Homo sapiens: one gene and its partners. The protein of the gene in region 3 interacts with the protein of the main gene of each other region in a pairwise test. Each region holds a gene or a part of one and is shown on either strand. Other genes may lie near its edges.

Region 1 (3,500 bases), on a different chromosome or scaffold from region 3:
CTTCTTTAGTTAACTGAAGACTTCCTTCCTGCAGGTTTTCTGCTGAGAGGTTTCTCAGAGGTCTGTATATAAAATGTGTGCCCCTTCCTGGCCTTGTCACTGTTTCTGCCCTTACCCAGCTTCATTTTTCTTCACTGCACCTATTACTGCCTGACATGATATGGAGCATATTTTGTTGATTGCAAGATGCACACTGGCTTTTAGATTTTAACACAACTGAAAGATAGGATGTCTTAAAAATTGATGATATCTTAAAAGTGCCGTGGGCCTGGATTGACATCAACTCTTTCCACGAGAGATTTGCATTTGCTTCTGCCAGTACTTAGGAATGCTACCAATCTGAGACTTCTTGAAATTAAGTTCTCTGTTTAGGGTTTTGTTTAATCCTCCTGGCAGAGTGAATTTAGACAAGACACTGGCTAATACCAACTGGTGGTTCCTATTCTCAGGGGAGATATTTTTTCCTCCTATGACACAGTGTCAAGTTTGAGACAATCAAGCTTCCTTGCTGTCCTTTTCTGTGTGGGGGATTTTTGTCTTTATATTTTCACTGAAGGTGCAGGTTTTTGGTATCCCAGTTGCATATGGGGGGTCTATTAGATGATCCATCTTAAGCATTTCTTCCTCTCTTGGTGGGACGTGAAAGCACAACTTACAGTTGACGGCAACTTAAGAGTCTGTGAAGTATGATGTGTAATTGTTTTCTGTCCACTTCCCCCACTAGAACATAAGCTCCCTGAGAGCAGTGATGGACTATTTTGTTCATTTGTGGTTTCTTTAGTACCTAGAACAGTATCAGGTACATGGTAGGCTCCCAACAAACATCTGTTGAATAAATATTAGCCCCAAAATATTTGTTGAATAAAAAATGAATAAGTTAATTTTTGCCTGGGAATAAAAGAGAAATTCTGGATCAGACTATCATTTATAATATTGGAAAGGTGAGACTACAACAGGCTATCTGAATCATTAGCTTGACTTACTGTGTGTGACATCTAAAATTGTCTCTTTGTCTTTGTGCATGCTACTCTGAAAAAACATGGTTCTGCTTATTTAAAAAACATATTTTAAGGCTCGGTGTGGTGGCTCATGCCTGTGGTCCTAGCTACTCACAAGGCTGAGATGGGAGGGTTGCATGGTCCAGGAGCTTGAGGCTGCAGTGAGTTATGACTGCCTACCGTGCTCCAGCCTGGGCAACAAAGCAAGACTCTGTCTCAAGAAATAATTAAATAATAAAATTATGTTAAACAGGATATGTGCCACCCACATAAATTTAATATTCACAATTAGCATTTTATGCTCTGGAGAATTAGAAAAGGGCATTTGGGGAAAGATTAATTTCAAATTATTTGATGCTGGTGATAAGCCACATAAAGGAAAAGCCTCCGCTTTAAGCTTCTGGTTTGTACTGACCTGGAGCAGGGAGGCCATCTCAAAGGAAGGGGAGAGCCTGGCCGGCAAGCCAGCCTCACTAGAAAAGATAGAAAGTTGTGCCGTTTCCATTTCCAATAGACACATAAGCATAAGAAGTAAGCCTCAGGCATCACATTCACTGGATTTTTATCTTCACTCAGCAAATGTTAGAAACAAAAGTTAAAAATTAAATCCCTGGCCCGGCGCGGTGGCTCACGCCTGTAATCCCAGCACTTTGGGAGGCCGAGGTGGGCGGATCACAAGGTCAGGAGTTCGAGACCAGCCTGTCCAATATGATGAAACCCCGTCTCTACTAAAAAATACAAAAATTAGCCAGGCGTGGTGGTGCGCGCCTGTAGTCCCAGCTACTACAGGCGTGTAGTCTGGCCACCACGCCCCGCTAATTTTTTTTTTTTTTTTTTTTTTTGGATTTTTAGTAGAGACGGGGTTTCACTGTGCTAGCCAGGATGGTCTCGATCTCCTGACCTCGTGATCCACCCGCCTTGGCCTCCCAAAGTGCTGGGATTACAGGCGTGAGCCACTGCGCCCGGCCCACATTCTTTACTTTAACTTGCCTCCCCGCTTAAAGTCACTACCTATTTCTTTCACCAGTTCCTCATCTCAGAAGATAAAACCTGTGAAAGCATTCTATCCAAAGTGGTTACCTGTGGGGTGAGGAGCAGGGTTCTGGATCGGTGGCAGAAGCCAATAAAGAGGTATCCTTGTTTTCTAGATCTTCATTCTCTAGAAAACCATAGAAAGAAAGAATTCAATATCTGAGAGGGAATACAATCATAATTATCTTGTACCTTTAAAAAAATCTAGCAATTTCAACCAAATTCTTCCCAAAAATATTCTGGTATGAACTTTATACTCTCAGAGGCCCAACACATAAATTATTCAAGTCATCACATCCAAGTATTCTCAGACAGTCATATCTCATTCATAAAAAATAAATCATTTCTAAAACAAGGCTCCAAAAATTAATCCTAATTTAAGAATCATATTTCTGCCAGGTGAAGTGGCTCACACCTATAATCCCAACACTTTGGGAGGCCAAGGCAGGAGGATTGCTTGAGACCAGGAGTTCAAAACCAGCCTGGGCAACAGAGCAAGACCCTGTCTCTAAAAAAAATTAAGGCCAGATGCAGTGGTTCATGCCTGTAATCCCAGCACTTTGGGAGGCTGAGGTGAGTCAGGAGTTCAAGACCAGCCTGATCAACACAGTGAAACCCCATCTCTACTAAAAATACAAAATTAGCCAGGCATGATGGTGCACACCTGTAATCCTAGCTACTTGGTAGGCTGAGGCAGAAGAATCACTTGAACCCGGGAGGCGGAGGTTGCAGTGAGCAGAGATCACACCATTGCACTCCAGCCTGGGCAACAACAGCAAAACTCCGTCTCAAAAATAATAATAATAAATTTTAAAAATTAAAAAAAAAATAGGGCCAGGCACGGTGGCTCACACTTGTAATCCCAGCACTTTGGGAGGCCGAGGTGGGCGGATCACTTGAGGTCAGGAGTTCGAGACCAGCCTGGCCAACATGGCGAAACCATGTCTCTACTAAAAATATAAAAATTAGCCGGGCATGGTGGCACGCAGCTGTAATCCCAGCTACTCAGGAGGCTGAGGCAGGAGAGTCACTTGAACCCAGGAGGTGGAGGTTGCAGTGAGCTGAGATCACACCACTGCACTCCAGCCTGGGCGACAGAGCGAGACTCCAACTCAATTAAAAAAAATTAATAAAAAGAAAGAAATCATATTCCTCAGAAAGCAGATGGTTAAATTAGGCAGAACATAGAGGGCAGAGTGGGATGTAAGATAAACTGAATTTAGCATCAAAGTATAAAGTGTCACTTCTACATTCAATAAGCTCAGATCAATGTACCCAAGGTCAGGTAAAGGACTTTTGTATTTTCATTTATTTATTCAATCACTCATTTACCAATGATTTACTGAATAACTAGGTGCCCTCAAGGAGTATATAGGTGAAATGCATAATGAAGGCCATGTTCTCAAGCTCAAAAGAAGCCTATGTATGGCTGGTCTTATCACAGCCATTTTTGCAGTAAGGAACTTAAGG
Region 2 (3,654 bases), on a different chromosome or scaffold from region 3:
TTTCCAGTTTCTTCCTTCCTTGGGGTTGGGGACCTCCTGGCTGAGAGCTGGAGGCTGGCCATACTCACGGCTCCATTCTGTATGGCCTTCCACCTCCTGCAGAGGGCAGCACAGATAGTGGAAGAGGCCTTGTCCCTGGAAAACCAGCCTGGGGCTGGGGCTGCTATCTCAGCCTCAGCCCCAGCTCTGCCATCTTGAGAGCCAGCAGCTCCAGAGGGCAACTGGGGACCACTACTCTGGCCACCTTTTGTCCTTAGCCTCCAGCAGCTTGTTCCTCAGGAGCCAGCACCTCCGCTGGGCTCACAGGGTACACTGCGGCCTCCTCAGCCCTCCCCGTTCTCCTGCTCCTAAACCCACAGCCCAGCCTTCCCTTCCTCTGAGCAGAGCAGCCCTGGCTGTGGGGGCTATTTCCTTATGGGATTCTCTGGCCAGAGAAAGGAGTAGCTGACTAAGCCTGGGAGAGGGTTTGTCACAATAAAAGAATACTTACTAACCTCTTGTCTGTTTACCATAGATTTATTGACAGCTACTACTCGCCAGGTGTGCTGGAGTCAGGTGGGGCTGGGGCTCACAGCTCTCTACCTGTTTAAGAGGGGCTGGCAGTGAGGATTTCTGCCTACCTCATGGGTGGGGCAGGCAAGGCTAATAGACAGCTCATTTCCTGCATCTGCCACTCCGACGCACCTTCTTCCCTCGGTTCCACCCCTCATTCAGCCAAAGCGCTCTGACTGAGTCCCAGAGGCCTCCCGTTTGCATTTCTGGCTCAAAGTCTGCAGCTGGCCCTTTCCATGCAGCTGGAGTTCTGCAGTCCATGGAACCTGCCACCATGATAGTCCAGATCAGGCCACAGTAATGGTGGCTGGGCTGGGAGCCTGAGATGTTAGCAGGAAGAGAGCTGCTGGGGCAGAAAGGTTGCTGAGGGTGAGCGTAGAGTCTCCTGTGCTAAATCCCCGCAGCTGAACAGCACTTGAAGGTTACAAAACTCTTTCACTCTTGTTCTCTTATTGTGATCCATGAGGTAGCTGTTATCCCCATAAGAGAGGAGGAAGCTAAGGCCAGAGAGGGGAAGTGCTAGGTCCATCCGCTCACTGCCAGCACTTCATGGCCCAGGGGCTTCCTGGAGGCAGCAGAGCTGGAAGTGGGTTCGGCCCACTCAAAGGGTAGACTGTTGCCCCTGGGTCTTACTCACTGAGCTTGTGATGCAGAGTGAAATTCCTATCACGGTGAGCACCATGCCAGCAACTGCTCCTGGGATAATAGGCAGAAATCAGGAGGGTCTGAGCTCAGCCATGCCAGTAGGAGCTGGTACAGGGCTGGAGGAAGGGCTCAGATGGGGTCTGGTCTTCAATCCCAAACCCCAGCCTCTGTCTTTCTCCAGACTGTCCAGGGGAAGGGAACTCTGATGGCCACAAGGAAGCAAAACAGCTGCAGAGGAAAGGGCAGGATGGGAAAAGGCCGTGTCCTCACCCACTCTGGGGAGATGGGTTCTGGGAAGGAACTAACACAGGTATGTCGAGATCCACAGAGCTGCGTCCCGCACTCGCAGTAGTCTAACTTACGTTTTCCACCAATATCTTCTCCAAGGGCCTTCCCAACAATCAGTGTGAAGATGATAGCCAGAGAGTTACAGATGGGCACAGCCAGGGTCAGATCTGGGTGGTCAGAATGAAAAGAATGCCTGAGATGCAACAAATGCCTTTCTAGGCACAAAACACTTCCATCATCATCATTTCATACCTTTAAAAAAGGTATCAAAACCCCATCTTCCAGATGAAGTCACAGCAAATCTCAGGACTCAAACCCACATCTCCTGACTCCACGTTCAGTGCTTCCCAGGATTCCAGCATGAAGACCTGAACTCTGAGGTCTGGGACCAGCCTGGTTTGATAATGAGAATGAGGTCTTTGCACTCAAAGAGAACTCGTGAGATCTCAAGGACATCTGGACGGACAGGCAGGCACCCAAATCCCAAAGGATGAGTAGAGAGTCAGGTAACACCAAGCACAGCCACCATTTATTAAGCACATACCATGGCCTAGGTGCTTTGTGTACATATCTCAGTTTTCACAACACTGCAAGAAGGGGATTATCACCATTTTGCGTAAAAGAAACAAAGGCTCAAAGAAGTCACATAAACTAAGGCAAGTTGAGGATTTAAACCAAGGCTTGCCTGACTCCAAAGCCTGCGCCGTTATTAAACTGTGGATATAGACAGAGCAGAACATCAGATGAAGCACATTTTGTTTCTGTTTCAGCCCAAGCTCAGGCCTTATGGAGTTAAAAATAAAAAGTGTCAGAAGGAAGGAGCAGGACCTGTTCAGGACATTGGGCTGGACCTGTGGTGTGGGTAGAGGGCATCATAGCCCAGGATCTGTTCCTTAATTTTGAAGTTCCAAGGGGCTGACTGCCAATAAGCAAACTTGAAAAAGAGTAATGGAGTTGGCTGGGTGCAGGGTGGCTCACGCCTGTAATCCCAGCACTTTGGGAGGCTGAGGCGGGCGGATCACCTGAGGTCAGGAGTTCAAGACCAGCTTGGCCAACATGGTGAAACCCCGTCTCTACTAAAAATACCAAAAATTAGCCAGGCATAGTGGCGGACGCCTGTAATCCCAGCTACTCAGGAGGCTGAGACAGGAGAATCGCTTGAACCCAGGAGGCAGAGGTTGCACTGAGCCAAGATCACACCACTGTACTCCAGCCTGAGAAACAAGAGTGAAACTCTGTCTCAAAAAAAAAAGAAAAAGACTAATGGAGTTAACTTAAAATTTGTTGAGGGTAGATCTCCTGTTAAGTGTTCTTATCACATCAAAAAAAGAGCCACAGCCAGGCGCAGTGGCTCATGCCTGTAATCCCAACATTTTGGAAGGCTGAGACGGGCGGATCACCTGAGGTTGGGAGTTAGAGACCAGCGTGACCAACATGGAGAAACCCCGTCTCTACTGAAAATACAAAATTAGGCTGGGTGTGGTGGCTCACGCCTGTAATCCCAGCACTTTGGGAGGCCGAGGCGGGTGGATCATTTGAGGTCAGGAGTTCAAGACCAGCCTGGCCAACATTGTGAAACCCCGTCTCTACTAAAAATACAAAAATTAGCCAGGCATGGTGGTGCATGCCTGTAGTCCCAGCTACTTGGGAGGCCGAGGCAGGAGAATTGCTTGAACCTGGTAGGCAGAGGTTGCAGTGACCAGAGATTGCACCACTGCACTCCAGCCTGGGTGACACAGCAAGGCTCCATCTCAAAAAACAAAAACAAAAGAACAAAATTAGCCAGGCGTGGTGGCACATGCCCATAATCCCAGCTAGTGGGGAGGCTAAGGAAGGAGAGTCACTTGAACCTGGGAGGCGGAGGTTGCAGTGAGCCAAGATCGCACCATTGCACTCCAGCTTGGGCAACAAGAGCGAAATGCCGTCTCAAAAAAAAAAAAAAAAAGCACCACATACACATAAAAAAGACCAATGGACGAATCAGCTGAGTTATCCATGGTAACAAGACTCAACTGCAGACCAGATGTTCACACTGGCTCCTCAGCAAATTCTTTCCCAGCACTCCCAGGGCTCGCCTGTGTGAGGCAAAGGAGCAAACTGTCCTGCTCCTCATCCCCTGGGAGGCCCCAGCATGGAGGCATTACCCATCTAAGAAATTGATACAACCCC
Region 3 (3,500 bases):
CTCATCTGTAAAATAATCACAGCAGGTTTCTTTACACATTGAGCAAAAAATAAACCAGAAACACTTCAACTGCAACAACCATGAAATAGAGTTGATACTAAAGTTTCTGTTAAATAACAGAACAAAAAATGGATTGCTTTATGTTAGAATAAAAACATTTAAAAATAAATTGGATGCCCTCCTTCCAGGAAGCAGTGAGGAAGACAGTCTAGACACCTTACAGCCTAGTTCTTCCATGGGCTTACTCCACCAGGACTAGTGCTTTACACCCTACGGGCACACAATATATGCTGAATGAATGGCAGGATTCGAGAATGAATGGCTATGTACTCCCTAGTCCCTGGACATTGGTATGGTAATTCTGATGCAGTTTTACATTAAATTTACATTGTACACAAAGAATGGTAGCTTTACTTCCATTTTTATCAGTGAAAAATTTAAGGAACTTAACAAATTACCCATTGTGATCTCCATTGTGGGGATAGGGTGGTATCCTCCTAATTCAGCTTTTGTCAGGATACAATTTTAAGACGCCACGAAATAACCTATTTTCTTATATAGAAACCCAGATTTACTCTCCCTCTCCACCTTCTAAACAGTGGGGATCACCAGTCTGCCACAGGATCCCCTCTGGGTAGGGAACAGTAGAGGGAACATGTTCTAAGGCCACTGATCACAGAATGGTTCTGAACACTAAGATGACTTCTGTCTGTATTTAAGGAATGACCTCTGAGCCCTGTCTCCAAGAAGGCCATGAGCATACAGGGTACCATAACAGACATTGACTATAGGGTTATCCCATGCCAAACTCTCAGTGAAATCCATTTTGAGCCCTCTCAGCCTTCTACGTCTTATCCCAACCCTGCGGGGCTTTTTTTGCATAACTGCATTGAGTATGCAGGTAGAAAGAAATCTATCATTCATTTCACCACAGCTGGTAATTATAGACTCCAGGTCTGTAGACTGTAGGTCAAGTCAAGCTGAAATAAACTTTGCACAGGGTATTTTTTTTTTTTTCCTAAAGCCAATCTTTAACATATATGCCTTTCATTTACATCAGGCAAAAAAACAAAAATTAGAAAACAGTAGTATTAAGGATAGAATTTAGTTTCCAACCTTAATACACTTTCCTCCATCTAAATAGTCACCCAAAACCTCATAGTTATTATCCATTGATCTAATAGTTGAATAACTTTTGGGGGGAATAAAAAAGATGGATTCATGGTCAGGAACCTATAAGAGTTTTCCCAGAGTTACTTTTTTAGCAAGGCTCTCAGAAGAAGGTAACAATTGGCAGCTTGTGCTTGTTAGGAGCCAAGCTTCCACTTGGGCTGCAGGGAGACTCACAATAGCATGAGGCCCCCAGCTTGTCTCAATTCCCTCAAGACTTATGCATTCTTTTTTCTCTCCCTCAATCTGCTTAGAGGATGTTTCTTCTTTTCTTACCTGTGTGCCCTAGGCCAGATTAGGAAACTATTTCCTTTGAAGTTTTCTGTACAAAGCCTTATCTGCAAAGTTTTTCCAAACTAAGTAAGATAAAGGAAATGGTTCAATGTAGGGATAACTATACCTGGCCCTCACCAGCCCATGACTCTCAGTGGTTACCTGTTCTCTCTTCTTGGAATTTAGAGCTTAGTTGCCTGTGGGGTGGCAGGACTGGGTAACTTCTCTACCCTGAAAACAGAATTGAGGAGAGAAAGTGAAGGAACAGTGTGGCCTTAACCTACCTGAAGCTCTCAATCAGAGTTCCACAAACCCTAGTGTGTTTTCTCTCTGAGACAAGCCCTGGGGCCTACCACACCTGGGTTTGCACACTGGCTGTTAGGTGAAGGTTGGGCAAGTCAGCTGATCTCTTTAAGCTTCCATTTTTTCTACTTTAAAGTGGGGATGATAAAAATGAGACCGTTGTAAAAATTAAATAAATTAAACCTCAAAGGAATTAGTGTGCTATTGGCATAGAGCACATACTCCATCAGTGATCTCTTTCCAACTTGTTTTCTTGGTTCTTAATTTTAAGCCAGAAGATTCTTTTTCAAATGGCTCTAGGGAGTCAGGATCAGACTTCCAAAGTGGAACCTGACCAGGGCCCCTCCATTTAATGCAAATTTCATTTGGTCTGGGAGATCAGACAGGTATAGAGTTATATCTGATGTTGAGAATATACCTTCCTCACTAGCTTTGGAGAAAGGGCTACAAAGATGAAAAGTGAAGACACCCCAAAATGGACTCATGGTAATTAAATAAGGCACACACAGCCCACCACATCATGGAAGAAAAAAACCTACAGATACATGGCAAGACAAAAAACAAAAAACAATATTTCCATACCTTTCCTCTAATCCCAAGGAAACCTAAAGAACTTGATTAAAAAGCCGTGGCCAAGAGTTCGAAGTGAAAGTCAGCCCTTTAGCTATTATTTATTGCTTTATTAGAGCAGAGGGAAGTGACACTCATTGCCTTCACAGAGCTCTGCAGAAATATATGCACAGAGTGGTCAATGACCAACATCTGAGTAAGTCTTCCAAATTATCACATTAAAATAACCTTTCAAATTTGAGTGCCTCTCCTTTGCAAACAACTGCAACCTCATAATGAATAATTTTATATATTATCAAAAAGAACCAGAAGCCCAGGTGCTTTTTTCCCCAAAATCCACTTACTAAGGACTTGAGTGAAAATCCACTCTAAGCAGATCACTGTTACTATTTCCCTTTCAAAACAGTTGGAAATCCTAAGGTACGGGTACTAAGAAGATAGCAATATCCTTCTTAAGCTGGTAAGAATCTAGCCCCACAGGGACAATTTGGCAATCCTGTTTCTGGAAGCCAGGACTCCAGAGATTTGTCTTAGTGATGGACAGATACTCCTCTAACCTTAAGGCATGAGGGCTGTCAAAACAAGGCTCTGAATAGTGCCTTCCTGCTCATCAATGTCATCACAATGAAGGAGAGAACAGGTTTTCGTTTTCCTGAAGAGTGGTCAGTAGGAGTGCAGTGGTTTGGCATAGATCGGCTCCAGAACATAATGGATTAAAACCAAGAAGAGGCCTCCAAGGAAGATGGCACTAAGGAAAGCCAGCAGGACATAGCGGCCAATGAAAAAGTCATCCACAATCTGGAGAAAGAAAACATCAAAATGAAATTACTACCAGTTAGACACCCTGGCTGGGTTAACCTGAACTCCATGATGAGTGGGCCAAGAGTTAGTTCATGTGTATAACTTCCAGTAACATCCTGCCCTGAGTCTCCTCTGTACATGAGAAAAAAGAATCTTTTCCTCAACTCCCTGAGCAGGAGACACAAGAAGGGATTAATGAGGGACAGGGAACAAATGGCTCAATTTAGGATGTTGGTAAACACTTTGAAGTCCCTGGATGAATTCTTTTATATTCTGAAATCTGTTACCTGAAAGAGTTAATGAGAAGCTTTTGCATGGTCCTAGAAAGGCTCATTTTTGTTGTTGCTAAAATACATTTTATTACGGAGAATTTTAAACATACA
Region 4 (2,520 bases), on a different chromosome or scaffold from region 3:
AGCAACAAAAATGGACTAAGACAGCAACGTCCTGAGATCAGGAGGAACGTCTCAGAACAGCCTGGGCTGTCTTCCTGTTCTTCCTGGAGGAGGACGTCATGCAGTGCTTTAGCTGAGTGCTTCCTGTGGCTCCACAGTACAAAACCCAGGCTGGGCTGCTCTCTGGCTTCCCCCAGCTACACTGCAAATGGGGTGACTCCATATGTCCCGAGTAGCTTTTCTGAGCCTTGAGGGACTGGCTCACATTGAAATGTAGGTTTCTGTTGTCACTCGCTGCTTATCTGTTAGTAATGAACCTGCCTGTGTAATGTATTCTCTGTGTGTTCTGTCTCCCTGGAGTGACGGTGAGTGATAGGAATTGGCATAAGCCCAGGTGCAGTCCAGGAGGTATTTAGAGTCTTCTCTGGGAAGACTGCACTGGGATTGATACACAGCGAATGTGCTTTAGGATTTCTACATCCACAGCATTCTTGAATCAAACAACTTGCATTCTCCAAGAAAAGGAAACAAAAGTGAAATCAAGATAAAAAAAGCTAAGTAGAATTCTCTTATGTCAAATGGCCAGGAAATAGTGTTGAAGCCCGTGTGAAACGTGCTACTCTTTGTGATCTCGGGAGACACATGTTAGGCTGCTGTTCTACCCGAGAGGCTGGGGGAAGGACCACCCCCTCGGCCATCTATTGCTTCAATACCACCTGTCCTCCTGTGAATTAGTAGGAAAGGGGAGCAGGAGCTAGTGCTGGCACTGATCTCTGATTCCAAGATCTGGACTCACTCCAAGGAGTATCAATGTTTACCTCCCCATAGCCTATCTGAATCTCCACAGGTGATTGGAAGTAGGGGTGAGGTGGGGGATTTGGGTGAGTGGGCAAGTTTTTTGTTGCGATGAACAGAGCACTTTCTCTATTCCACGATCTGTGCTGGAGGATTCTGAGGGCTTTCACATTTTCTATGTGATCTCATTCTCACAGAAAGCCAAATAGGGAAGAGGTTTTAAGCTCATTGCCTAATGGATAAGATAAAGGATCAAAGAAGTAATTATAGAGAAATAGAAAAACGATGATTGGAATTCAGGTGCCTTTGTCATTCGTGTGTGTTTTATTATATTTATGTATTTCTTATTTTTATTTTTTGAGATAGAGTCTCCTTGTGTCCCCCAGGCTGGAGTGCAGTGATGCAATCTCCACTCACTGCAACCTCCACCTACTGGGTTGAAGTCATTCTCCTGCTTCATCCTCCAGAATAGGAGCTGGGATTACAGGGATGCACCATCGTGCTCGGCTAATTTTTGTATTTTTAGTAGAGATAGGGTTTCACCACGTTGGCCAGGCTGGTCTGGAACTCCTGACTTCATGGAATCCACCCACCTTGGCCTCCTGCAGTGCTAGGTTACAGGCGTGAGCCACTGTTCACAGACTTGTATATTATGCTATAATAAGTCTCTTCATTTCCACCACCACTCATATATCTGTCACTCCTTTGCCAGGTATTGATTTATGTGTAGGATGAATAAATCTCAGAAAGAAATTAATTAAGCGAGGATTAAACAAGTAGGAAAATCAAACCCAGTAAGCGTTTCCAGTCAATGATTCTACCTCACAAACATATCTTATATCCATCTACTTCATTCATTTAGTGTCTAAATCAGCACCACATTTCACCAGTGGGGTGGCAATTGCCTTTTCCACGGTCTCCTAGATTCCAGTTATGCAACTGAGCCTCCCTTATTTTCATGTCAGTCATATTAATCATGTAGGGATTCCTGGTTACCCCGAGGTGAATCCAATGGCTGTGAGTGTCAAACACACACTCCTTGTTGCTCCTTAGTTTCCTGTGTACCCAGTGTGCTCTCCGTCTCTCTACAGTCGTCTTGTCATTCTCCCCACATCATTCCCAGCATTTGAGGCAGAGCCTCTTCCTTCCACATCAGATTGTTTTCACCTTTGTGCCTTCACGGCTGACAGCTGTGTGTGCAAAATCCTTCCGCCAATCTTTCAGGGGTTCAATCCGTGTTTTTCATTAATGTCACAAATATCTGAATAGTGAGACCTTCTTTGTCACCTGAAATCATACACTCAGCATTATCTATTATTGATTTTGAATTCTGGCTGGGCACAGTGGCTCACGCCTGTAGTCCCATTACTTTGGCATGCTGAGACGGTCGGATCACTTGAGGTTGGGAGTTTCAGACAAGCTTGGCCAACGTGGTGAAACATCCTCTCTACAAAAAATATACAAAAAGAATTAGCCGGGCACGGTGGCAGTTGCCTGTAATCCCAGCTACTCGAGAGGCGGAGGCAGGAGAATCACTTGAATCCAGGAGACGCAGGTTGCAGTGAGCCAAGATCGTGACACTGCACTGTAGCCTGGAAGACAGAGGGCGACTCTGTCTCAATAAACAAAAGAACAAACAAAAAATAGATTTCATGCACAGATGCTTCCCAATGGATCATTCATTTATAGATCCACTTGTGCATTCATTTTCTGCCCTCCCATTTAACCATCTGCAATATCAGTGTC
Region 5 (3,500 bases), on a different chromosome or scaffold from region 3:
CCTCCCAGGCTCCCCTTGGCCCAGACCCCAAGCCTCACCTACGAGCACCTCCTTCCGCTCCAGGATACTCTTCTGAGGCAGCTGAGCAGCTGAGCTGCCCGAGTCGATGGCATTGTCCAGGAGGCCAGGGCCCGGGCGGGCACCCTTGGGCAGTGTCCCAGGTGGAGATGATGCCTTGGCCGCAGCCCCTCCCACAGCTACCACCTCATTGGCTGTGTCTGGTTGTGTGGTCTCTTCTTCTGGCAGCTCGAAGTCTCCACTGGGCCCCCCACTCACCGGAACCTCTGGCTCATCCCGGATTGTGGTCAGGAAGGTCTCTGGAGTTGGGGTCTGCAGAGAGGGTGGCATGAGCCCAGGACAACCACACATGCATGCATAACCCCCCACCACCATCCTACTGCCCTGGGGGGCTAACACTTAGCACTCCCTACATGCCAGGCACTGTGCTACACACTATCCCCATGAAGGAGTGTAACAATGCCCCCAGTTTACAGAGCAGGAAGTCAGCTCAGAGCATAAATGACCTGCCCAAGGACACACAGCTAGTAAGTGGGGGACAGAACTAAAATTCAGATCTATCTGTCTCCACAGTCTGTGTTTCTAACCACTAACACACTGCCTCTGTTCTTGCTCTGGACATCCTGTCCCCCTCATGTCCCCTCCAGCTGCCTTAGTAACAATCCTTGGGGGATTCCTGCCGAGAAGCTGTTTGGGAACTGCTGGGTGCAGATGCTATGGATGTGGGCCTGGTCCCAGTCCATGCCTAAGGCAGGGGAGCATTCTGTAGCCTGGAGGCCAGTCCAAGAGCACAACCTGCAGACTATGATGGCCTCAGGGGCAGGTGTCCCGGAAACCAGCTCAGTGACTGACAATCTCTAGGGCTCCCACCACTCGGAGGCAGGATCAGAGCTGGGAATGATGAGACCAAAGTGGGGGCTGTGGGAGCCATCAGAGCAGGGATGTCGCTACTTCAAAGGTGGGCATGGAAAGGCAGGCCTGATGTCCAGGCTGAAAAGAGGCTGCAGCAGTGCCCCAGCGTACACAGCGTGCACAATGGCTCCTCCAGCAACCTGGGCCCTGTGCACCTTCTCCTGGGCTCCGTGCCCCATCACTGTTTCCCCTTCCTGCTTGGCCAAGTCTGTGTGAAAACACCAGGCTGCCCCAGCTGCTTGAGGAGGCAAGGGAAGGGCCTGCATCCTGCTAGAGCTGGCTGGGGAGTCAGAGGGACTGACACTGACCCCAAGGCAGCGCCACGGCCCAAGGGCCTTCCACAGTGAGGCCAGCTGCAGAGGGCTCTGGCACCCAGTCCATGTTCCCACCTCTCCATCTTACTTAGTGCACCCAGCTGGGACCAGACCACCTCTCTCATGTCCTTGGGATTCATCCATCCCTGGCACTCCTGACATCTTCATCCTCTTCCCATCAATTCCCCTGCCCCATCCAGAATATCCCAAATGCACACACATGCAGCCCTGGCCCTGCGAGACTGCCCGGCTCTGGCACCAACTGCCTGGGTTCAAATCCTGACTGTCATCGCTGGCTGCGGAGCCTTGGGAAGTGGCTTCACCTCCCTGTGCACCCACAGTTGCTCGTCTGTAAAATGAGATGACCACAGTGCTGCCCGTGGGGTGGGCATGAGGGCTGGGGCTAACACAGGTAAAGTGCTGAGCACTGACCCACACCCAGGCAGCCCTCCACAAGGCGAGTGATGCCTTCTCATACACCAGCTCTTAACCACCCTCAGACCCATGATAATAACAACCGTGATGACGACAGCAGCTGAGAACCCACTGGCTGTACCATCACCAGGCGCTGTTCTAAGCACTGTGGATGTCAGGAGACTTCACGCTCACAATGAAATGATACACATTCTATTGTTTTCTCCTTTCCGTAGATGAGGAAGCGGAGGTATAGAAATGATCAGGGACTGGCCTGAGGTCCCGTGACTAGGAAGTGGCAGTGGAAAGATTCTAATCCAGCTGCCAGACCACTGAATTAATTCTCTCAACCGAAACACTCAGCCCGGCCCCCCTTGTCACCAATGCACACGTTCACCCAATTCCTTCCCCACCAATGTCCCATCCCATTAGGATCCAACCACCCCAGCCCTCGTTTTCTGTCCCTCTTCCCTCCCTATCCGATCTCTGTCCCTTGGTCCTGCCCCTCGCCCCCACTTTGTCTGGCTCATCTCTATAGCCTCCTGGTCCTCAGTCCTGTCCAGCCCCATCCTCCTCATCCCTCCCCTGACCCACCCTCCTCCGCCCTCCTCCCTGTCCCTTCTCAACACCCTCACCTGAGCCACCTCTGTGGGTCCAGGGGCAGTGGTCCCCAGGGGCAGGGTGCTCCTCTCAGGGATGTCAGGCTCCTGGGTGGTGGCCGGCCTGGGAAGGGCTCTTGGCCGGGAGGTAGCTGTGCTGACCAGCCTGGGTGTTGGGGCCTCGGTGTCCAAGACAGCCGCCGTGGTGGGCGGGGAGGGCGCCTCGGGGGTAGTGGCCCGTGCCGTAGCCACTGTGGTCAGTGGGAGAGGCAGAAGCCTCCGTACGCCAGTGGTCCTTATAACAGCAGTGGTGGCCGTAAAAGGGGGTGCTGCAGGGGTGCTGGGGGTGGCGGTGGCCACTGTGGCAGGCACTGTGGCCACAGTCGGGTCCCCTGTGCTTGTGGCAGCAGTGGTAGCCATGGTAGTGGAGACGGTGGTGGCTCTCTGGCTGGGCTCTTCCGGGACTTCTGTCACCACCAGGGGGCTGGTGGCTGGCTCCAGGGTGGGGCGCTCAGAGGGGAGCTCTTCAAATGGTGTGCCCACAGGCTGGATGTTCGTGGTGGGCAGCACCGCAGGTGTGGTGGACACCGCCAGGGCTACATCTGGGCTGAAGCGCATGGCTGTCTCAATGCCCGACTCCTGCTCGAAGTCTGAGGGGGTGGGGGAGAGGGAGAGAGCTAGGGAGCTGGGTGGTTGTGAGGGGCATGAGGATCCCAGGTAAGCAATGGCCATCAAGATTAGGTCTCCCAACCCCCTCTCTTTACCCAATTTTCCCAGAAAAGATGAGAGAAAGGAGGAAGGCACAGCCCAGCTAAAGGTGGTCAGTTGCTGATGTTCCCCAACTTCTCTCTGCCAAGTCAAAAATTCTGGGGGCCGCCTCTCCCGGGAAGCCTTCCTTGACTATTCCTGCCCACCCAGCCTACAGTTTCTATGAGGTTGAATCCAGGCAGCAGCAACTGAGGCGCTACTGGCTGCAAAACTTGCTGGGGCTTGCAGGGGAACACAGGAGTGGCATTCTGGGAAGAGTCAGACCCCAAAGGCACCCCTACCACAAGCTCAAGGCAGGGGTGGTACACTAAGGGCTTCCCCCAGAGGCAGAGGCGGAGGGTAAAAGGGAAAAGAAGCCCTTGAGGCAGGGGAACTGCTTGAGCAATCTGGCTGACGCAAAGCCGGGACAGTGAAGGAACTTGGGAGGAAATGAGATGGGGAGTAGGGGATGGGGGAGGGAGAAGCCACAGCCAGC
Region 6 (3,500 bases), on a different chromosome or scaffold from region 3:
CTCCCACCCTTTAGAGTGCATCAGAATCCCTGGAGGGGATGGGCAGATGATTGGCCCTGTCCTCAGGGTTCCTGATCCAGTAGATCGGGGGGTGAGCTTGAGAATTTGCATTTGTAGCCAGCTCCCTGGTGATGCTGCTGCTGGTTCAGGGACACACTATGGGAACCACTGACCTCAGCTGACTTTCATCAGCTCTGATGCCTCCTTTTGTCCACAGAGACCCCCAACAGTGGCCAGTCAAGGAGACATGTGGAGTGTGGGCTTGGGCCCAACACTCCTTGAGTGCTGATTAAAAAAGAGGGCCACCTAATGCGGCCTCTCTTCCAATGACAACACATAATGTCATAGGTTCTTTATTTGCCGTCCTCTTTCTGCCCTCTCTTTATATGCTTTACTACTGTGGGCCCAGCCACCCCAGGAGGGCTAATGAAAATTTAAGAGGGTGAATATGTTTAGGGTATTGACTGGTGAGACCTTGGGAGACAGCTGAAGAGGAAGGAATCTACCCCATTCGTTGCCATTATTGAAACTAGATTTCTTGAGAGGAGGAATTATATGTTAGTAGCACTATATTTTGCACGTTAGAGATGTCTAAAAATCTGAAGTGTGCTCTGCCTAACTCGTCATGGAGTCTTGGCTCTGAAAATGTTGTAAGGTGATGCAAAAACCTCCGAAGAGAGATTTCATTCCTTGTCTTTTGACTGAAGGTAGTGTGTTGACAACAAAAAGCAAGGGTAAAGCTTTTCCATGAGCAGTGAGTCCTGTACCCTTCCTCTTAGTCATGTGATGCTGCTTAGTCATATGATTACTGCATTCCAGACCTGCTCTCATAGACACAAGGTTCGTGTAGGGACTGAGATATCATTTTTGGTTAAATGTGATTCATTTTTTTTATAGAGAAATGATGGCTCCCTCAGTCATAAAGCAATGGCCCCATAGAGTGGTGAGGTCCAGTCTGATTTGTTGACTGAGCCTGAAGGGCATCGCTTCTCTCATAGCCATTAGAAGTGCTCTGTGTTGCAGAGACTTTGAAATACATACACTCCAACCCCAGTTCCTAGCTCTCTCAGCTTCTTTATGCTTCTAGTGACAAAGAATTCAGAGCTGTGTAAATGCAGAGAAGACAGATCACATTACCTCTGCCCCGCTCTGACTACTGAAAATGCTTTCTTATATTGAACCAAAATATGTCACTTTGTAGCTTCCACTGCTGGGTCCCACTTTTATCCCTTAGAGCCCAGCAGAACAATTATAATCCTTCCTTCATCTTCAAATATCAAGATACCTGAAAACAACTATCATGCCTCCTCCCCCACATATTCTCCAGGGAAAACACTCCTAATTCTTTCATCTACTCTAATATTACATGGTTTGGACTCAGGTACTGTCCTGCCTATTCCCTTCTGCACATAGATTGTTGGATTATATCCCTTTTAAATTGAAATGATTGAATGTGGCAGTGAAATAAATCCTGTCCTCAAAAACATTCTCTTCATTAAACAGAAGTTCCACTATGAGACATTATTTACTTTGGAATGGCAAGATATTTGAAGAGGTCAAGAGTTTTCTAATCCAGTATTACTGCCCCATGGAAGGATTAACATGCATTACTGGTATTTACTGTTTCATTTTGATAATGTTTTCCCCTGCATGAATGTATGTGGCTGTGATATCTGAGTTAGGGAAATGGAAACGATGTAAGAGAACCGGAAGTATTATGGATCACCACTCTGTTTCTTCTGGTTCTTCCTCTCATAGTCTTCTCAGATATTTCTCCCTGACATTTCTCTTTTCTAGGTTGTAAGTTTGGCATTAAAGCTGTTCTTTTGCTTCTAGTGAAAAGGTATGGAACTTAGTTTCCAAGTTTTCTCCTTGAGGGAAGCAGAGGTTCTCAAACACTGCTTACAAATTACATGGTCTATTTTCAGGAAAACAATGACTATTAGTAGACTAATTCAACCTAAACTTACAGCATGTATCTAGCCTATGGACATTTAGGGGATTTAAAACAAAATGCAAATTGCTAGTCAACAGCAAGTGCCAGATATTAGAAGACAGCATCTAATTCTTCAGCATTCTTAGACACAATGTGGGTGTAATTGTCAAGATTAGAACATTGCTTTTGAGCATGGGTTGTGAAGTTGGCTTTTCTCCTTTGTGTCTACTTTAACAGATCAGCTAACAGAAATCAAACAATATGTATTTGCATCTCTTTTGTTAAGAATCATCTACACCTACTCCAAAAGTCAACATATCCCAACTAATTTATTTTAAAAAAATACACCACTAAAGAATGATTCAAGGGCACCAGGAAATATTGTCTCTACCAGGAATCTTTTCACCACTGGGACAAATCATTTCCTCTGCCTTACTCTATCCTGATTCACATTAGCTGTATTTCTTTGCTGCCAGACATTTATATCGGGCATGCATACCAAAGACTCCAGTGTGTTCACCCTACCAGTTTCCCTCCTCCTGGATATAGAGCTGAACTACAATTTGCAGCTGCTCTTGCAGTTAGGTATGACCATAGAATATGAATAGGAGTGATATACATTACTTCTAGGCCCGGATCATTAAAATCTTCTACATAATCATCTACTCTCCCTCTTTCCTTGTCTGCTAGTTGGATATCACCACTCAGCAGATCTTAGAAGCCATGTACTAAAGATGACAAAGTGTCCCTCAGCCTGGGTCCTTGTACGGCATCAACCAATTAGATTTATGTGAAAGAAATCTTCTATTTTGTTAAATTAGTGAGATTTAGATATTTTCTGTTTCAAGAACTTTCTAATTAATACAGTATACACAGGCTCATCAAGAACTGAAGTTAATGCCACATTGCAATAAATGAATAAAAACATCTGCTATTTTTAAAGTGCCTACTTTGTGCTGGACACTGCACAAAGAACTTTTTTTTTTTTTTTGGAGACAGAGTCTCCCTCTCACCCAGGCTGGAGTGCAGTGGTGTGATCTCAGCTCACTGCAACATCTGCCTCCTGGGTTCAAGCAATTCTTGTGCCTCAGCCTCCTGAGTAGCTGGGACTACAGGCATGTGCCTCCACACCTGGCTGATTTTTGTATTTTTAGTAGAGATGGGGTTTTGCCACTTTGGCCAGGCTGGTCTCAAGTCATCTCCTGGCCTCAAGGGATCCACCTGACTCGGCCTCCTAAAGTGCTGGGATTATAGGTGTAAGCCACCGCTCCTGGCCTGTGCTAAGAACTTTACTTACATTATCACATGAATCCTCATAACATCTCTGAGGTATATGTTGTTATTATTACTCTTATTGTTATTATTTTATGATAGGGAAAGCAAGGCATAAAGTTGATTAAGGTCACATAGTTAGCATAGTGGATTATATTATTGCCTCCAATTATTCTCTTCCCTCTCTGAAAGATTAGATGTCTCTACCTGTTGCTGCACGGCTTGCAGTGCTTCACTGTGGGAGAAATATACATCTCCTTCCCATTGATCATTGACACTGATGTGACATGTG
Region 7 (3,500 bases), on a different chromosome or scaffold from region 3:
ACTCAAAATGTCACATATATTACCTCGTGACGATCTCTTGATACCATTTTATACAGAAGGTGTCTCAAATTCACACAGCTAGAAAGTGACAGAGCTTGGATTCAAATCCATATCTACCTGACCCCAGACTCTATGCTTGAAGACGCTGTCCTCTGATTATAAGCACAAATGTAAACTAGCATTTCATTGCTAACATTTTATGTCTTCCCTCCTATAGATGCTTATAGTAACAACAGTTCTTCTGGTACTGGAGAATAATAACAACTATAAATGTTGCCAGAGTGAAAACTGCAGCAAAAAATATGTGGTAAGAGCAACAGTTTTTTTGAGGATGGTTGAGTGGGCTCCAGCTTTCTTTCCTCTCACTCAGAAACACAAAAATATTGACAGTATTATACCCTCACTACTGTTGAGTACAGTACAGAGATCAAGAGTTTACTGCCAAGATCATCTTCCATTTTGCTTAGTCTTTCCTCCACTTTTGTTCTACTGATGCACTTTCAGAAAATCAGCATTTAAAGATACCTAAAATTAGGAAATAATACTTTTTTTTCCTAACTAAGTTTCCATTAGTCTATTTTTTCTTTACAAACTTTATTGAGGGCTAAATTACATATAATAAGTGGCATCCATTAAAATTATGCAATATCATGAGTTTTAACAGTTGACTACACTCATGAAACCACCATTGCAGTCAAGATAACAGAATATTTCTGCCAACCCCCAAAGATTAACCTTTGATTTACTTTTTGTCATTATAGATTAGTTTGTATTTTATATATGTGGAATCATACAATATTTGTCTTTTTTATCTGGGTTTTTTCATCCAGGATAATAATTTTTAGATTCATCCATATTGTTGGGTGTATGTGATGTGCATTTTCTAAGTTGGCACTTGAAAAATAATTAAAATAGTATCAGGGTGAATAATACAACCGCATTTTCTAAGCCAGTGCTCCTGCATTTCTACCATTCTCCTTCTCATCCTCTTCCTCCTCTTCATCGTTTATTCACACTTGCATAGCACTTTATAGTTCTTTCACATTTACTCAGTGAATTAAGTCATTATTGCTCCTATTTTATAGATGAAGCACTTGTGGCTCAAAGAGAACAAGTGATTATTAGCTAGGAGGAGTTTTATGATGATATCTGGTAGGCATTTTTTGCAGCAGTGCTTCTACCTGTTAGCTTCATATTGCAATCACCTGGGAGCTTGGAACAACACTAATGCCTAAATCCCATCCCCAGAGTCCCTGATTTAGTTAGTCTGAGGTACAACCTGGGCATGGATATGTTTTAAATCTCCCCAGGATATTTCAATGCGTAGTCAAGATTGTATGGCAAATTTTCTTTGACCAATGTCTTTTAAAAATTAAATTCGTTGCTTTATTTAGTACTGTGTCCCTTATGGAGAAGAATTGAAAATTTAAAATACACTCGTGTGTGTGTGTGTGTGTGTGTGTGTGTGTGTGTGTGTGTGACCAGTTGACTCAGTCATCCTCCAGTAGCTACTTGTAATATACTTATGGAAGAGATTTCAAAATTGCCTAGGGGAAATAATAAATTCAGGTATAGATTCAAGTTATGATACTCAGAGAATTTCTAGAAAACAAATATATGTGATATTAAGTGTAAAATAAAAATTCACATGTTCAATTTGCCTTAACTCACTATTAGCACTTCTAGCACAAATAGATGCTAGAAATAGTCTGAAAAGGGTCTTATAATCAGCATTAAATTAGATGACTAACATCTCATTGGGAACAGCAGGAGAAAGAAAGAGAGGATTCTCCGGGTTCCCTTTTTGGCCTTTTCAAGGTAAGTTCTAGAAGAGAAGTCCCAATTCAAATGCCCCCAGAAGCCACGTGTGTGACATAAATGAATTAAATGAGCCTGGTAGGCATCAGAGCACAATTTCCATCTAAGGAGGAGAAGGAGCTGCTACTGAAGTCCAGCCAGTTGTTGCCATGATCAAGTAGGGCAATAATTCTCAGTTTTCAGTAGAAAGTAAAAATATGGATTTTTATGTAAAACTTTTCAATTGTAAAATATTGGCAATTAATCTTCATTTAAACCAAACAAAGTACATATTGTGGGAAAAACTGAATCTGCATCAGTTTGTAACTTCCAAAATGTAATAAAAATTGATTCATTTCTTGGTTGTTATCTGCTATGGCCTGAATGTGTTCCTCCAAAATTCACATGGAAACCTAATTCTCACTGTGGCGATATTAAGAGGTGGGATGTTTTTGGAAGTGACTAAGTTATGATGGCTCTTCCCTCATGAATGAGAGTGGTGCCCTTATAAAAGGGGTTGAGGGGAGTACTCTTACCTCCCTTGCACCATGCGAGGACACATAGAAGGTGCCATTTATGAGGAATGAGCCCTCACCAGACACTGAATCTGCCAGTGATCTTGGACTTTCCAGCCTCCAGAAGTGTGAATAATAAAATTCTGTTATTAATTACTCAGTCTAAGGTATTTTTATTATAGCAGCAGGAACTAAGGCACTCTCCATTCCTGCATGGAGTCTGGTTTTCTGCCAAAATTCTTGGACAATTATTCCTGGAAAGCAAATATTGGCCAAATAAGGGCACTTGAAATAATAGCTAATATTTTATTATATTTTATTTTTGAAATTGCCCTGTCACATAGGTACCATTCCTGTCTACATCATCTACAGTTTACAGAAAAGAAAACTATGATTCAAATTCTTATTCCCACTTTATTTTGAGGCTTACCTTGATAGTGCAATGGTATCCACTCATTAGATTGTAGTGTGTGCGTGTGCATGTGTGTGTATGCTATGGCTGCCAGTTTCCCCCAATGAAGAAATTCTTCACTGATCTTCCCAGTGAATATTTTTTCCAGTTTTCCATAAAGAGGATATATTAATGTCATACTCAGTGAAATAATTTTAAACAAAGAAATGTTATTGAGATGATTTTTATTCCTAAAATCACAGGTTTGTTGGTCTTACTTTTTCTGGTCTCAGCTTTTGAATTTATTATCAATTGGTTACTGCATGTTACTATTCTGCTGCCTACTCTCACCCTGCAATCAACATTTCTAAAGCTAATTTTTCCCCCAAACCAAATAACCTTTCTTGGTATCCTTATTTCTGTCTCCTTTTTATCCAAGCCCCAGCTCTGGATTTTTTTTTTTTTTTCATCTCCAGCTACTCATTTCCTCCTTAATGTGTTTTCCTCCAATGTGTGTCTTTGTCACCTCAACTTGCATCTGTCTCCAAGCTGGATCCTTATCTTTGAGGTCTCTTACTTCCAGCTTGTGTGACCACTGCCAGAGCAATCTTCCAAAAGCACATTTTGGGCATATCACTTCCTGCTCAAAAACCAATTACAAGACTTGTTTAAAAAATAGTTTCTGGCCGGACACAGCGGCTCATGCCTGTAATCCCAGCACTTTGGGAGGCCAAGGCAGGTGGATCCCCTGAGGTCAGGAGTTTGAGAGCAGCCTGGCCAACATGGTGAAACCCCAT

What was found.
Region 1: the proteins of TMEM218 (region 3) and TMED8 interact in binary tests that used the Homo sapiens proteins (3 or more experiments, as listed by UniProt).
Region 2: the proteins of TMEM218 (region 3) and TMEM234 interact in binary tests that used the Homo sapiens proteins (3 or more experiments, as listed by UniProt).
Region 4: the proteins of TMEM218 (region 3) and KIR2DL3 interact in binary tests that used the Homo sapiens proteins (3 or more experiments, as listed by UniProt).
Region 5: the proteins of TMEM218 (region 3) and SDC3 interact in a two-hybrid assay, tested with the Homo sapiens proteins (one large-scale study listed by BioGRID).
Region 6: the proteins of TMEM218 (region 3) and KCNJ6 interact in binary tests that used the Homo sapiens proteins (3 or more experiments, as listed by UniProt).
Region 7: the proteins of TMEM218 (region 3) and TM4SF18 interact in binary tests that used the Homo sapiens proteins (3 or more experiments, as listed by UniProt).

Annotation. Positions count from the first base shown.
Region 1 is NC_000014.9:77,349,595-77,353,094, forward strand, and holds part of TMED8 (protein TMED8), read right to left. Parts: intron 2,158-3,500; coding exon 2,079-2,157; intron 1-2,078.
Region 2 is NC_000001.11:32,215,700-32,219,353, forward strand, and holds the end of TMEM234 (transmembrane protein 234 isoform a precursor), read right to left. Parts: intron 1,879-3,654; exon of another isoform or gene 1,738-1,878; intron 1,653-1,737; coding exon 1,560-1,652; intron 1,426-1,559; coding exon of another isoform or gene 1,268-1,425; exon of another isoform or gene 1,249-1,267; coding exon 1,154-1,248; 3' UTR 819-1,153; coding exon of another isoform or gene 711-818; 3' UTR 501-710; downstream 1-500. Other genes in the region: DCDC2B (doublecortin domain-containing protein 2B), read left to right, coding at 103-198.
Region 3 is NC_000011.10:125,094,627-125,098,126, forward strand, and holds part of TMEM218 (transmembrane protein 218), read right to left. Parts: intron 3,115-3,500; coding exon 2,980-3,114; 3' UTR 1-2,979. UniProt on the Homo sapiens protein: May be involved in ciliary biogenesis or function.
Region 4 is NC_000019.10:54,748,513-54,751,032, reverse strand, and holds part of KIR2DL3 (killer cell immunoglobulin-like receptor 2DL3 precursor), read right to left. Parts: intron 1-2,520. UniProt on the Homo sapiens protein: Receptor on natural killer (NK) cells for HLA-C alleles (HLA-Cw1, HLA-Cw3 and HLA-Cw7). Inhibits the activity of NK cells thus preventing cell lysis.
Region 5 is NC_000001.11:30,874,259-30,877,758, forward strand, and holds part of SDC3 (syndecan-3), read right to left. Parts: intron 2,908-3,500; coding exon 2,294-2,907; intron 331-2,293; coding exon 39-330; intron 1-38. UniProt on the Homo sapiens protein: Cell surface proteoglycan that may bear heparan sulfate. May have a role in the organization of cell shape by affecting the actin cytoskeleton, possibly by transferring signals from the cell surface in a sugar-dependent mechanism.
Region 6 is NC_000021.9:37,906,458-37,909,957, forward strand, and holds part of KCNJ6 (G protein-activated inward rectifier potassium channel 2), read right to left. Parts: intron 1-3,500. UniProt on the Homo sapiens protein: Inward rectifier potassium channels are characterized by a greater tendency to allow potassium to flow into the cell rather than out of it.
Region 7 is NC_000003.12:149,327,137-149,330,636, reverse strand, and holds part of TM4SF18 (transmembrane 4 L6 family member 18), read left to right. Parts: intron 1-217; coding exon 218-307; intron 308-3,500.